Regions from separate parts of the Homo sapiens genome. Here region 1 is linked to region 2. Evidence: fine-mapped expression QTL. A gene starts in region 2. The other region holds a variant in brackets. All regions are shown on one strand. Distances are from middle to middle. Region 1 overlaps MPZ (myelin protein zero). Region 2 holds the start of PCP4L1 (Purkinje cell protein 4 like 1).

Region 1 (4,517 bases), 46 kb after region 2:
TGTTGGCCAGGCTGGTCTTGAACTCCTGACCTCAAGTGATCCACCCACCTCAGCTCCCAAAGTGCTGGGATTACAGGCGTGAGCCACTGCGCTTGGCCCTGTTTTTCTTTTTTAACACGAGTGTCTCCATCTTGATTCTGACAACTTTCACATATTGTTACTTAATAAATCTTATAATTTTTTTCATACAGGTTATGTACCTTTCTTGTTAATTTCTGTTTCTGTTCTTTTTACTGTCATCAGTGGGCTTCCCTATTATTTTCATTTCTAGCTAGATTTCTAGTTATAGACTGAAATTAATTTATTTTATAATCACACTACCAGATTGACTTCTTAGTTCAATACATGTCTAGTTGCATCTTATGGATTTCCTAGAAACACAATCATATTATCTGCAAATAAAGATAAGTTTCTCATCTATGTATACAGATTGTTCCTTGTTTTTGGTTAATTACACTAGCTAAATTCTTCAAATATAATACTGAATATTTTTAGCGATAATGTAAGTACTGTCTTTTGTTTTAATGACAATGGCTGCAATATTTCATATTTAATATGCTTTTTAAATGATTTTTGAAAAATAGTGTCCATTATGGTTATTTCTATTACTATTTTACTTAGAATGTTTTGTAGGAATAGCTACTAAAAAACAATTGCTTTTTTTTTTTTACATCTCCTCTTGATAGAATTACGTTTTTTCCCTGATGATATAACACATCCTGTTAGTAAATTTCCTGATACTGAACTATTCTTTCATTCCCAGAGTAAATTCTTCATGGTCATAATTTATTATTTTATTAACTCATTGTGGAATTCTCTTTTGCAAATATTTTATTTAGACTCTTTGTCTGCGTATTCATAAATTGGGTTATAATCTTTTTCTTTTTATGGTTAACACTGAAAAAGGCTTTAAATTATTCTCAAAGTGCTCACATGCCTGGGCAAAATTATTGCTATTATTAACAACGCACTGAGGATTGTGAACGATTTATTTCAAAGTAATAATTAGATGGGATTCAAAGTTTCCCATATAACAATGTCATTTCCCTTTATCTGAATCATTATTCTAGACTTTATTTAATGCTTTACTGCAGAGGAAAGAAAGGGGGGATGTGGCTTACTTTGTTGGGGATTGTGGAAAATGGGCACAGTCCTGGAAAAACCCACATTAAGTGTGCAATGCTTGTGAAAATGCCTAATGCAAGAGATTGCAAAATGTTGTCCCAGGGTACCAGGATTCTTGATGGAATAAGAAATATTAAAATAATTGGATAAACTGAGCTAGCAAAATGCAGGTGGCTGATAAATTTTAGAACAAAAGTGTAATTAAATGAGAAGCTTTGAGCTATACTCTATCTCATAAGTAGCATAATATTTCATTTGACTCTCTCTCTCTCTCTTTCTTTTTTATTTTTATGAGACATAGTCTCGCTGTGTTGCCCAGGCTAGAGTGCAGCGGCATGATCTCGGCTCACTGCAACCTCCGCCTCCGCGGTTCAAGCAATTCTCGTGCCCCAGCTGCCCAAGTAGCCAGGGTTAGAAGGCGTTCACCACCATGCTCGGCTAATTTTTGTATTTTTAGTGGAGACAGTGTTTAGCCATGTTGGTCAGGCTGGCCTCAACCTCCTAGCCTGAAGTGATCTGCCCACCTCGGCCTCCCAAAGTGCTGGCATTACAGGCATGAGCCACCACATCCAACCTCATTTGACTCTCCTGACAGTCTGGGAAGTTTAAGCAGGGAACCCAGCTGCAACTATCTAATGAATAATGGACAGTTTAGCATCTTAACTAATAAGGAATCTTGGGCTTAAGATATTCCCAACTTTATTACTGGGTTGTGACTAAGTTTCCTCTCCCACTTCCCCCCAACAAAAGGCTATATATACTCTATTAGCTTTTATATTTAAATGAAGGCAGATTGATTTTTTTTAAAAGACATTGAAGACACCCCTCAAACAAATGGAAGCACTCTGGGTTTTGGTAAAGCTGGTGTTAATCATATCTTTAGCTTCTTAACAAGGGGAAGAAATTACTTGTGGGCACTTTGGGTTTTTTTGTGCCATCAGTAATCCCCAGGGGAAAATGATACGTATATGTTTTTCCACAATCAGTTCAGGATACCAGGATATTAATGGTATACCTAAATCAACATACCAACAAACTAGCTAATGAGGTATTAATAGTATACCTATTAATAGGTAAACAGAAGTAAAATCATGTACCAACAAAACAAAGCAGTGATTGTTTAGAGAGGTGAATGGGATTTGTGCTAATTTGTAAAGTGTACTACCTTAGGCAAGCACTAGAAACAAATATTGAACACCTTAATATTTAGTTGTATATCAACTTACAGTTTACAAAGTTTTCCATACACAGGATCTCATTTGATTATTATAAAATCCCTAGGAATTAAGCAGGGCAGATATCATTATCTCAGTTGTTTACAAGTACATAAACAAGCTTACCAAAGTCAGGTAACTGTCCTGGGGATCACACAGCTAGAGAGTGGCTGGGATGTTTTAAAATTCAGATCTTGGTGAAGACAGATTCTGCGTTTTAACTCATGTAAAAGCAGAGACTGGCAGAGTTTACAACGTAGTATAATCTCACTGATTATTTGCTGAAGGTATGAATGTGTCTTGTGAGGCTATTTCAGAGTTCTTTCTAGTATACTATATAAGCCCACCCCAAAAAAACAAACTAAACAACTGAAGCCAA[G/C]TATGGAAGGTTGGGGATGGGATAAGGGGCAGGAATTATTCCCAGGAGGACTAGGAAATTCTAGACAAGGCAGCAGCTTCTGGAAATGTCAGTGTTTATTAAACATTTAAGGACATTTGGAGGTTTGAGAAGAAATATACAGAATGTAGAAAAATCCTAAGAATCCCCTGTGGCTGCAGTGCAGCCTCTTCCTCCCCCCCGCCCCCCCATTTCCCATTTGTTTTTCCTGCTTTTTGTTTGGTTGTTTAAAAACCATTTCTTAAGGCTCATTTGCCCCCTCCCCCACTCCCTGACCTATGAGGATCCATTCTCTCTCTCTGTCTCTCTCCTCAAGACCTGGAGTCCCAGAACAGTGCTCCAAAGTGGTCAGGGGGAACCAATGCTATACTGAAGTGTGAGGATCAGGGGCCCCTCTACTTGGGCTGGCTCTTCATTAAGGACTTAAGGGGGGCGTGAATTGCAAAAGCCACATGACGTCATTGGTCCTCAGTCATGGGTGTAAGGGCAGAGGATGAGCACAGGTAAACAAACAAAGAATGGATTAAAAAATAAAAAATAATAACCTAAATAAACCCTGAAGGAGAGTCTGATCTGGGTGCTCTGGGTATTAGCTGGGGGGACAGAGTATGGAGCTGGGCCACCTGGTAGAGGGGAGGGAGGGACGGGAGAGGAAACAGCCAGGGGGACAGGCTGGGGGATGCAGGAGATGGGAATGCCAGGTGGCCTGGACTTGAGGCAGAGGGTATCAAAGTCCCTTTCTTCTCAGTGCTCAGGTGGACAGGCACCAAACACACAGCCCCCGGGGCAGGTGAGGGGTAGGATTAGCTCCTGGGCTCCCAGAAAGCCAGGGGTGAAGGTGGGGGAGAATACAATTGCCTGGGGAATGAATTCTGGAATGAAACTTACATCTCAAAGGGAGGTGAGGGCAGGGCAGGGCGGGGGAGCAAAGAGGGAAAGCACCTAGACGGGGGTAAGAGGAGCCTAGGTCCCCCTGCTCTGGCAGGGCCTGGGGTGGGGGGGTGGCGATCACTTGTCCGAGTTCAGGCCCATCATGTTCTTGAGGGCGTTTTTGAGGCTGGTTCTGCTGGGGGACTTGACAGCAGGCCGGAGCTCCGGGCTCTGCTCATCCTTTCGTAGCTCCATCTCGATGACCATCACCTTTGGGCCTTTGGCGGACTCCACCCCTAACCCCCGATCCCCCGCCCGGCCCGCTAACCGCTATTTCTTATCCTTGCGAGACTCCCCCAGCCCCTTGGCCTTCTTCTCACTGACAGCTTTGGTGCTTCTGCTGTGGTCCAGCATTGCATACAGCACTGGCGTCTGGGGGAGGGGCGCACACATCAGTCACCGAGCGACTGGGGCTTGACTGTTCCCATCCCACCCCTCACTGCTGCCCGGCGGCTCCCAGGGTTCTCCTTCCCATCTTGTCTAGGCCCCAAGTCCCGCTAACCTGCCGCCCGCGCTTCGACGCGTCCTTTCCTGGCTTGTGCAATTTCCCCTTCTCCATAGCACTGCAAGAAGAGAGACTGCTGTACGTTTGGCCTCGCCGGAACCCCTTGCACCGCGGACACAGCTTCCTCTTCCCCTTGGCCCTCCCACCCACTGGAGTAGTCTCCGCCCAGATGGGGGATAGTGGGGAGAGGGGGAGGGGAGCTAGGCTCCGCCCCTTACCTGAGCCTCCTCTGCAGGGCCGCCTGCCTGCGTAGCCAGCAGTACCGAACCACGTAGAAAAGCAGCAGCAGCAACAGCACCACCCCGAGGACACCCCCGATCACAGCTCCCAGAACGACCCCGTACCT
Region 2 (4,245 bases):
AGGTTTTCAACAAAAGTAAAGTTTGCTGAAAGTTAACAGTATAACATGTATTATCCTAACTTCTAATCTTGTGGAAATCAGACCCTATCAGTGCCCCACAAAGCTCCTGTCAGCACAGGGCCATACAACTAATACCCCTACTTATAGGGTTAGGAATGGCCACTGCTACAGGAACCAGAATAGCAGGTTTATCTACTTCATTATCCTGCTACCACACACACTTGAAGGATTTCTCAGACAGTTTACAAGAAGTAACAAAATCTATCCTTACTCTACAATCCCAAATAGACTCTTTGGCAGCAGTGACTCTCCAAAACCGCTGAGGCCTAGACCTCCTCACTGCTGAGAAAGGAGGACTTTCACCTTCTTAGGGGAAGAATGTTGCTTTTACACTAACCAGTCAGGGATAGTACGAGACTCCGCCCGGTGTTTATGGGAAGAGGCTTCTGAAATCAGACAAAGCCTTTCAAACCCTTAGACCAACCTTCAGAGTTAGGCGACATGGCTTCTCCCCTTTCTAGGTCCTGTGACAGCCATCTTGCTATTACTCGCCTTTGGGCCTTGTATTTTTAACCTCTTTGTCAAATTTGTTTCCTCCAGGATCAATGCCATCAAGCTACAGATGGTCTTACAAATGGAACCCCAAACGAGCTCAACTAACAACTTCTACCGAGGACCCCTGGACCAACCCACTGACCCTTTGGCTGGCCTAGAGAGTTTCCCTCTGGAGGATACTACCACTGCAGGGCCCCTTCGCCCCCATCCAGCAGGAAGTAGCTAGAGTGGTCATCGCCCAATTTCCAACAGCAGCTGGGGTGTCCTGTTTAGAGGGGAGATTGAGAGGTGAAGCCAGCTGGACTTCTGGGTCAGGTGGGGACTTGGAGAACTTTTCTGTCTTACAAGAGGATTGTAAAATGTGCCAATTAGCACTCTGTAGCTAGGATTGTAAAACGCACCAATCAGCACTCTGTAGCTAGCTAGAGGTTTGTAAAATGAACCAATCAGCACTCTGTAAAATGGACCAAACAGCAGGACATGGGCGGTGACCCCAGGAAATAAAAGCTGGCCACCCCAGCCAGCAGCAGCAACGTGCTCGGGTCCCCTTCCATGCTGTGGAAGCTTTGTTCTTTCGCTCTTCACAATACATCTTGCTGCTGCTCACTCGCTCACTGACTCACTCTTTGTGTCCGTGCCACCTTTAAGAGCTGTAACACTCACTGCAAAAATTCCCAGCTTCATTCTGGAAGTCAGCGAGACCAAGAACCCACCAGAAGGAACCAACTCCAGACACAGTAGGATTTGATGAATCCTAAAATGTCTTCCAACTCCTGAGATCTATGATCTTCCACATCAAACAGGCACTTCACAATTTCCCTGTTCTTTGCCAAAGAAAGCTGTCCATTTGCTCCAGTCTCTCTCTCATTCTGTCTCTCTCTCTCTTCCCCCAGCCTTCCTCCCTCTCTTGTGCTATTCTCTGGTCCAGGGTTCTGTTCTTTTTTTTTTTTTTTTTTTTGAGACGGAGTCTTTCTCTGTCACCCAGGCTGGAGTGCAGTGGCGCGATCTCGGCTCACTGCAAGCTCCACCTCCCGGGTTCACGCCATTCTCCTGCCTCAATCTCCCGAGTAGCTGGGATTACAGTCGCCTGCCACCACGCTTGGCTAATTTTTTGTATTTTTAGTAGAGACTGGGTTTCACCGTGTTAGCCAGGATGGTCTCGATCTCCTGACCTTGTGATCTGCCCGCCTCGGCCTCCCAAAGTGCTGGAATTACAGGCTTGAGCCACCGCGCCCGACCTCCAGGGTGCTATTCTACTAGGAAATCTTAATCTGCAACATCTCTTGGCTTTACCCCTTTCATTCACTGTTTCCTGTTTTCCGTGTACCCTCTTGATTTCTTTCCAGGCCTTCTCTTTCTCAGACTCACACACTCCTTCCATTCCACTCCCCACCTTGCCTTCTTCGTGTACATCTCCTTTCTCCCTCTCTTTCTTTGCTCCCCCTACTTCATTTTCCGTCCCCGCATCCCCCGATGGTCTCCCCCTCCTTCCCGCTCTCTGTCTTACCCTAGTTTGGAAATGCAGCAGACCTCTAAACCTGCCAGCATTGGATGCAAGAGGCTGTCATTCTACGGTAGGAGGAGCTTCTATTGGTCGGGCTGGAGGCGGGTACCGAGCTGAGTATAAAAGGTGGGGCCGGAGGCGGCGAGCTGAGCGGCTCTGACAGGACGGGTCGCAGGGGGTCGCCTGGCCGGAGCTGGGCTCCGAGAATCCCGGGTGCCAGCACCAGAGCAGCGGCTCTCCGCACTAACTCTCCTCTCCTGGTCAGCTGTAACCCCTGCCGCAGAGCCCGGCAACTTTCAGCTGTCGCCCGCGGAGCCCCGAGGGCCACTCGCCTCACCTGTGCGTGCAGCGCCTCGCGCGCCCTGTCCGGCTGCGGAGATGAGCGAGGTGAGCGGTGCGGCCCCCGGCGCTGTCGGCAGGGCTGCGGCGGGGAGGGTGCTGCGGCTCGGGATCCCAGGGAGGCGAGGGAGAGCGAGGCAGACCGGAGCCGCGAAGAACCCTCCAGGGGCGCCCCACTGCCCTCCTAGGAAAGCTCCCACCTCGGGGCGCTGGGAAACGATTGGAAGACGGGGTGCTTTCAGTCTCCCTACTGTGGACGGCGCTTTTGGGGGTAATTGGAATCGGCTGTAGAGTCCGGAAGCGGGGATGCTGAGCTCTCAGGTGGTAGGTCATCCCCTCTGGATACTGCCCCCTGCATCTGTCTTACTGCCCGAGATTATTCTGGCTCCCCTTACCCCCCTCACTTCGCTTCTGTCCTCTCTCTCCTAGGGATGTAAGGCACTCACATTCCTTCTGTAGCATCTAACAAGAACTCCATCCCTGGCCCCCGGGGAGGGCCACTGTGCCCCTTTTAGAAAGGTGGCATCCTGCCCTCCACTCATTCAGTCAGGAACGTTGGAGGGACGTGTTCCGGTATTTAGAAGCCCCTGCCAGTTGCTGGGGAGATTTCCCCTTCAAGAATAGACCTCCCTCTGCAGTGCTTGTTACAAACTAGGTCTTCCGGCAGGCTCTGTGGTGTTCACCGTGGCCAGACCCAGGCCATTAACTGATTTACTGTTTTCAAAGAACACTGTTCATGGGGTGGGGGAGTGGGGGGTCAAAGCAGAGACTTTGGAAAGACGTCTCCTATTGTCTATTTGTAGGCACAGTCTCATCTCCAGAAACAAGGATCAGCCTTTCCAAGTGAAGTCAGTCTGGTTAGTGGCATCACAAGCTTGCCCTCTGCAACCTCTTTCCTAGTACCCACATCGTTGTGTTAAATCCAACTCCTCTGCTATATGTCAGATATGTATGTAGGCCAGCTACTTACCTGTGATGTAGCCTTAGGCAAAGTACAAAACCTTTGTTTCATTTTTTGTCTGTAAAATGGGGATAATACTGGTTGTTGTAATAATTAAATGAGATAATATATGCCAAATACTTGAAACAGGACCTGGCACTCAATCTATATTAGCTATTATCTTTCTGTTTCTTTTTTCTTCCTCTCCCATTAGAGTATTACAGAAATTTAACAGAAGAATTCCCAAAGACATTAGATTACTGAAGGAATAGGACCCTGGAGCCTGGGTTCCAGTTTAGATACTAAAAATGAAGATCTCTATGACTCCTACCAAAAGTTGTCACCCAGGGAGCTAATTAGTGCCAACTGCTGTGTTGTCTTGGTTGCCGTGTTCACTAATTTTATCCTGGAAAATTCGGCTAGTCTGGGGGCTGCAGATGAACCAAAGTGGTTTCCAGTCCCTCAGCTGGTTGTGACTCTGATGATGGCAATCTTTCAGAAAGAAAAGAAAAAAACGCATCAACCTCCTCTTTCACCTCTAATGTGGGAAGAGAGGTTTTCTTTGCCCCTTTTCACTGAGGTCTAGGGTTCATACTACTCCTCCCACCCCGAGCATTTCTAAATCTGAAAGTTGTAATCCAAGCCATCCCCTGGGAGTTTGTGATCTGAAGGCTATGCCAACGTGAGGATTTGCAGTTAGCCTGTGTTTTCTGGGGTAAGTGCACAGCCCCTTTGTAGGACACACTACAGGGGCTGGCATTTAGAGTGGTATTTGGTGGAATGAGAAGCCTGTTTTGTAGCAAAGGAAACAATTCGGTGTTTGAGGAGAAAGCCAAGTCCGCTCCCTCCTGACTCAGCAGCTGAATTTGGTTAGCCTTCATCAGGGGCTCAGTAGAATGATGAGAGA

What was found. PIP is the estimated chance that this variant, and not a neighbour inherited with it, causes the effect.
Region 1: its variant is fine-mapped to the expression of PCP4L1 in fibroblasts (GTEx, PIP 0.93).

The regions. Positions count from the first base shown.
Region 1 is chr1:161,301,940-161,306,456 of GRCh38, forward strand. It overlaps MPZ (myelin protein zero), which reads right to left. Exons shown (of 6, transcript NM_000530.8): 4 at 4,390-4,517; 5 at 4,169-4,229; 6 at 2,796-4,038. The coding sequence ends at 3,937. Among named protein-coding and RNA genes, the nearest start is that of MPZ, 5.8 kb to the right of the region's middle. The variant G/C (reference allele first, on the strand shown) is at 2,719.
Region 2 is chr1:161,256,538-161,260,782 of GRCh38, forward strand. PCP4L1 (Purkinje cell protein 4 like 1) reads left to right here and starts at 2,208. Exons shown (of 3, transcript NM_001102566.2): 1 at 2,208-2,446. The coding sequence starts at 2,438. RefSeq lists an enhancer at 2,576-3,076.